Linked DNA regions of Homo sapiens. The protein of the gene in region 1 purifies or fractionates together with the protein of each later gene. This does not show direct contact. Each region holds a gene or a part of one and is shown on either strand. Other genes may lie near its edges.

Evidence for each region.
Region 2: the proteins of GTF2H2C (region 1) and IRAK4 fractionate together in Homo sapiens (co-fractionation; one large-scale study listed by BioGRID). This does not show direct contact.

Annotation. Positions count from the first base shown.
Region 1 is NC_000005.10:69,593,453-69,596,054, forward strand, and holds the end of GTF2H2C (general transcription factor IIH subunit 2-like protein), read left to right. Parts: 3' UTR 1-1,769; downstream 1,770-2,602. UniProt on the Homo sapiens protein: Component of the core-TFIIH basal transcription factor involved in nucleotide excision repair (NER) of DNA and, when complexed to CAK, in RNA transcription by RNA polymerase II.
Region 2 is NC_000012.12:43,786,163-43,789,998, reverse strand, and holds the end of IRAK4 (interleukin-1 receptor-associated kinase 4), read right to left. Parts: intron 3,601-3,836; coding exon 3,442-3,600; intron 3,320-3,441; coding exon 3,284-3,319; 3' UTR 458-3,283; downstream 1-457.

The DNA.
Region 1 (2,602 bases):
TTAACAGAGCTCTAAAGTTTGACAGAAAGTGAGATTCAAATCCTTTCACTCTCATATGCTAAACCTTTTGCCTTACTCTGGGTCATCAGAGAAATTTAGGTGAGAATGTATGATGAAGTCTGTGTTTTAGATTCAATGCAGATATATCATTGTGGGCAGAACTCTTTCTGGTTATATCCAGTTAAGAGTAAATCAGGCTTTCAGCCGGGCGCGGTGGCTCACGCCTGTAATCCTAGCACTTTGGGAGGCCGAGGCGGGCAGATCACGAGGTCAGGAGATCGAGACCATCCTGGCTAACACGGTGAAACCCCGTCTCTACTAAACATACAAAAAATTAGCTGGGCCTGGTGGCGGGCGCCTGTAGTCCCAGCTATTCGGAAGGCTGGGGCAGGAGAATGGTGTGAACCCAGGAGGCGGAGCTTGCAGTGAACCGAGATCGCTCCACTGCACTCCAGCCTGGGCGACAGAGCTAGACTCTGTCTCAAGAAAAAAAAAAAAAAAAAAAAAAAAAAGAGTAAATCAGGCTTTCATAGCAAAGGTATGTCTATTTTATGTATATAAACTTCAGGTACTCTAACTTGAGTTTCACTATGAAATTTGTGATTTTTTTTTTTTTTTTTTTGAGATGGAGTCTTGCTCCATCGCCCAGGCTGGAGTGCAGTGGCCTGCTGTTGGCTCACTGCAACCTCCGCCTCCCAGGCTCAAGCCATTCTCCTGTCTCAGCCTCCTGAGTAGCTGGGACTACAGGCGCCTGCCACCACGCCTGGCTAATTTTTGCATTTTTGGTAGAGACGGGGTTTCACCTTGTTGATCAGGCTGATCTCCAACTCCTGACCTCAGGTCATCCACCCACCTCCGCCACCGTGCCCGGCCGAAATTTGTGATTTTATAACTAAGAATTTTTAGTTAAGAACATTATCAGTAAAGACAACGTAATCCCACCCTGGAGAGTTTATTGGGAGCCCAGGAATATTCATTTTTAATACACACACACACACACACACACACACACACACACACACACACTGATCAGAGTAACGGGAGTTTCTCTCAGGAGTCATACTCCATGAGCCTGGACCCAGTGGTTCTTTATGTGGAAACAAATTTCACCTATAGGTAACCTGGTAACTGCTATTTTCTTCTGTGTGCTCTGTCAACAAAGGTATCAGTGGCTTGCAGGAGATGCCTTTAATACTCAGAGCATTCTATCTCCCCCTATCTGGTTTAGAAGGAAGGCCTTCATTAGTTACCTTTTGAGAAGTTACTAGAACTCTCTATTAGAGACTTACCCTCCTGACCTGATAAAAAGGGATACCCATGTCTCTATTAACAGCTTTATCTCTTTCTACAGTTTTGGGTATTTGATAAGGTTAAGGCAAAATTTTAGTTATGCTTAAGGAGGAGTTCTTTTTTCACAATTACAGAGAAAATTTTGGTTTGTTGAAGATTGCAGAAACAGCAATGGTAATGTAAGACAGTTTTGGCCTTTAATTTTTTTCTTGAAACTCTACAGTATACTACAATAGTGAAGGAAACTATTATCATGAGAGATCCTTCTGAATAGGATGTCTTTCTGAGTTCCACTATTCAGTTACAAAACTCCTTAATGCTTAAAATTCATTATGAAAATTAGATTTATTTTAAATACTTTCAAGTGTATACATTTTTATTTCATAATTTTTATTGTCTTTTAACTAAAGCATTTAGTTCATTTATATTTACTGTGTACCTTTTATATTTAATAAATATATTTACTTATTAAAAGATTACCACTGATATATTTTATTATAAATATTATATTTATAAATATATTATTTATATTTATATTTATATATTTATATATATTTATATATAATATATATTTTAATATATTATATATTAAAATATATAAATATATATAATAAATATAAATATTTATTAAAAGATTACCACTGATATATTTGGGTTTAAGTCTATTATCTTTGTGTTATTGGTTCCAACAATTCCATCTTTCGTTTTTTTAAATTTTTTTAACTACATATTTGATACGATCTTTTCCTTCTTGCCTTCTTTTTGATTACTTACTTTCTACCATTCTATGTTTTTCGTCACTAGTTTGAAAATTGTATACTTTGTTTTTATTCTTTCAGTGGTTACCCTAGAAATTACAACAAACAAAAATTGCAACAACAATAAATTACAACAAGAAGAATTTTTTTTTTTTTTTTTGAGACAGAGTCTCGCTCTGTCGCCCAGGCTGGAGTGCAGTGGCGCGATCTCAGCTCACTGCAAGCTCCACCTCCCGGGTTCATGCCATTCTCCTGCCTCAGCCTCCCGAGTAGCTGGGACTGCAGGTGCCTGCCACCACGCCTGGCTAATTTTTTGTATTTTTACTGGAGACGGGGTTTCACTGTGTTAGCCAGGATGGTCTCGATCTCCTGACCTCATGATCCATCTGCCTTGGCCTCCCAAAGTGCTGGGATTACAGGCGTGAGCCACCACGCCTGGTCAACAACAAGAATTTCTTAACTTAGGTCCCCTAGGAAGTAGAACCTGAGGCAAAGATGAAAGTATTGTTACTTTATTAGGGAGGGACAGATCTAGGGGGGTGAGAGTGTGGAAG
Region 2 (3,836 bases), on another chromosome or scaffold:
CAAGGCCAGCCCAGATTTAATGGTTGAGGAAATAGACTTTACTTCCTGATGGGAAAAATTACAAAGCCATATTGCAAAAGGCATCAAATATAATGAGTGGAGAATTGCAGTCTAATACAATGAACAAGGGAAAGAAGTTATTTAATCATTGGGGGTCTCAAAATTTCCTCAAGAAGTAAAAGAATAGAACCTACATTGTAGATTTATCAAATCAGATCATGCTTCTAAAACTCAGCACAATGTTTGGCACAATAACTTTCAACATATGACAGAGAAAATGATTATGATTAATATGATGCACAGACATCGTGTTAGTGGTAAAGATCGCAAACTGATACCAGATGCTAATTTCTGCCACGCAACTTATTAGCTATATAATCTTGGGTAATTTCCTCATCTGTAAAATGTGATTATTACCAAATTCATAGGATTGTTATAAAAATTAAAGCACTTCAAACAGTATTCATAAGTGTTTAATAAAAACAATCTATAACTTAAAAATTACAAATTTATATAGTTAGCCCGTTTTGCATCACTATAAAGGAATAACTGAGGCTGGGTAATTTATAAAGAAAAAAGGTTTGTTTTGGCTTACGGTTCTGCAGGCCATACTAGCACGGCACCAATATTTGCCTGGCCTTTGATGAAGGCCCCAGGAAGGTTACAATCACAATGGAAGGCAAAGGGGGAGCAGACTCTTTTAAGCCACCAGATCTCACACGAACTGAGTGAGAACTCACTCATCACCAGTGGCTCTAAGCCATTCATGAGGGATCATCCACCATGACCCAAACACTTCCCATCAGGCCCCACCTCCACCCCCAACACTGGGGATTACATTTAAACATGAAATTTGAAGGAGACAAACATCTAAACAATGTCATTCTACCCCCAGCCCCCCAAATCTAATGTCTTTCTCACATTGCAAAATATAATCATCCCTTCCCAAAGTCTTAACTCATTCTAGCATCACTCAAAAGTCCTAAGTCTCATTTGAGACTCAAGGTAAGTTCCTGCCGCCTATGAGCCTCTGAAATAAAATATAAGTTATTTATTTCCAAGATACAGTTGGTGGTACAGGCAATAAGTAAAACATTCTTGTCCCAAAAGGGAGAAATTGGCTAAAGAAAGGGGCAACAGGATCCTGGCAAGTCTGAAACCCAGCTGGGAAGACATTAAACTTTAAATACTGGCACTTTGGGAGGCCGAGGCGGGTGATCACGAGGTCAGGAGATCAAGACCATCCTGGCTAACACAGTGAAACCCCATCTCTACTAAAAATACAAAAAAAATTAGCTGGGCATGGTGGCGGGCACCTGTAGTCCCAGCTACTGGGGAGGCTGAGGCAGGGGAATGGCGTGAACCTGGGAGGCAGAGCTTGCAGTGAGCCGAGATCGTGCCACTGCACTCCAGCCTGGGCAACAGAGCAAGACTCCGTCTCAAAAAAAAAAAAAAAAAAGCCCTAACATATTCCTTGATTCCATGTCCCACATCCTGGCACACTGGTGCAAGGGGTGGGCCCTCGAGGCCGTGGGCAGCTCCACTCCTGTGGCTTTGCAGGGTGCGTGGCTTCCCTCATGGTTGAAGTTGAGTGCCTGTGGCTTTTCCAAGCTCAGAGTGCAAGCTGCTGGTGGCTCTACAATTCTCAAGTCTGGAGGGTGGCAGCACCCTTCCCATAGCTCTACTAGGCAGTGTCCTGCTGGGGTCTCTGTGTTGGGGCTCCAACCCCACATTTCAGTACGTACACTATAAGCCTCCCGCTGTACATGCTCTGTATAATTTCCACATACCCCTCAAATGTGGGCAAAACCTGTAAATATCATGGGAAATCATCATGGGAAAAACATCATGGGAGAGTATCTGTATTTGTTTTCTATTACTGAATAATAAATTACCACAAACTTAAAGGCTTAATGTGACCCATTTATTTATTTATTTATTTATGATGGAGTCTCACTCTGTCACCCAGGCTGGAGTGCAGTGGCACGATCTCAGCTCACTGCAACCTCTACCTCCCTGGTTCCAGCTAGTCTCCTGCCTCAGCCTCCCAAGTAGCTGGGACTACAGGTGTCCACCACCACGCTCGTCTAATTTTTGTATTTTTAGTAGAGACGGGGTTTCACCATGTTGGCCAGGCCGGTCTTGAACTCTTGACCTCAGGTGATCTGCCTGCCTCGGCCTCCCAAAGTGCTGGGATTTACAGGTATGAGCCACCACATCCAGCCAATGTGACCCATTATCTCACAGTTCTATATATTAGAAGTCCAGCACAGAACAGATAGATTCTCATACTGAGGATCATGCAAAGCTGAAATCCAGGTGTCAGCCCAGGCTGTGGTTATCATCTGAAGCTTGGAGTACTCTTCTAAGCTGACTCAGATTTTTGGCAGAATTCAGTTCCTTGTGGTTGCAACTGAGGTCCCAATTTTTTTTTCCTGCTTGCTGACAACTGGAAGGTAGGTCTCATCTCCTAGAGGCCACCTTTAGGTTTTAGCCAATGTGGCCCTCTCACATACTTCTTCAAGGCTTACAAGGAGAATTCTTCTTGCAAGGGTTCACTTGATTAGGTCAGGCCCTTTCAACAGTCTCAAAGTGAGTTGTTTAGGAACCTTAACTGCATCTGCCAAATTCCTTCAACTTTGTCATGTAACATAATCTAATAATGGACATATCATTATGGCAGTATCATCAAGGGATATTTTATTTGTGGTTAAATGATTGCTGTGAACACAATCTATAAATATATGACTAATAGGATTTTGTAACTGGCTCTATAAACTTTAAATTTTGTATCATTTTACAATTTACAAAGTGCTTGTATATATTTTGCATCATTTGATTTTCATGACTACCTGTCAGAGAAGCACAGCAGATATTAGCCCAATGTTATTAGTGGCTCACAGCAGCTAAGTGTATGTCCAAAGCTTTACAGCAAATTAGTAGTGGAGTCAGCTGGGCTTCAGATCAGAGTGTTTCCACCCTACATACAGCCCAGGCTCTTTTTGCTAACCCTGTAATTTTCAAACTGTGTTTGGTGATGCTTGAAGGAGATTTCTCAGGGATTACTGTAAGAACTGGGGGTGATACTAATGGGTAGGGCTAAGTGTTGATATGGTGGCTCTATTTTTATATTTTGGAAGTTCAACCCATGCTTTAATAACCACTGTCCTGCAACAGCCTATGCCTTGTTAAAGGTAAAGAAGAATATTTAGGAAAAAAATCAGTTAAAAAAATGGTTGAGATAGGTGTATATAAAAAGTCAAGAGTCTTTTCCAATAAAGTTTTAAGAAGCTGTCATCTCTTGCAGCAGCTGTTGAACCTTTTAAAAAGAAAGAAAAAAACAAAAGAACCACATTATACAGTTGCTTTAAAATATACACTCTGGAAAATATGATGAACCCCACCCCTTTCACTTTTTAAATAAGTATAAAAAATGCATACCTTCTTAATGTCTGGTCTCTTATTTTTCTTTTCATGCAGACATTGACTAGCAACAGAGTACATAGCTTCAACTGAAGTGGAATCAGCATCATTCATCTTTTTATCAATATAATCTTCAATTGTCTTTTCTTCATCTTCAATTTCTTCTTTAATATCTAGCTTTAAAATGAGTGTTAAAACTTTAAGAGCTTCAAATCATAGTGAAAGAAAATAGAATATATATTTTAATTATTTAAATTAATCTACTTTGTAATAACATGTGCTCTCATTTTACTATCTTATCTTAAAACCTTATTAAGAATTGAAGACCCAGCCTGGGCAACATGGTGAAACCCTGTTTCTACTAAAAATACAAAAAATTAGCCAGGCATGGTGGTGCATGCCTGTAATCTTAG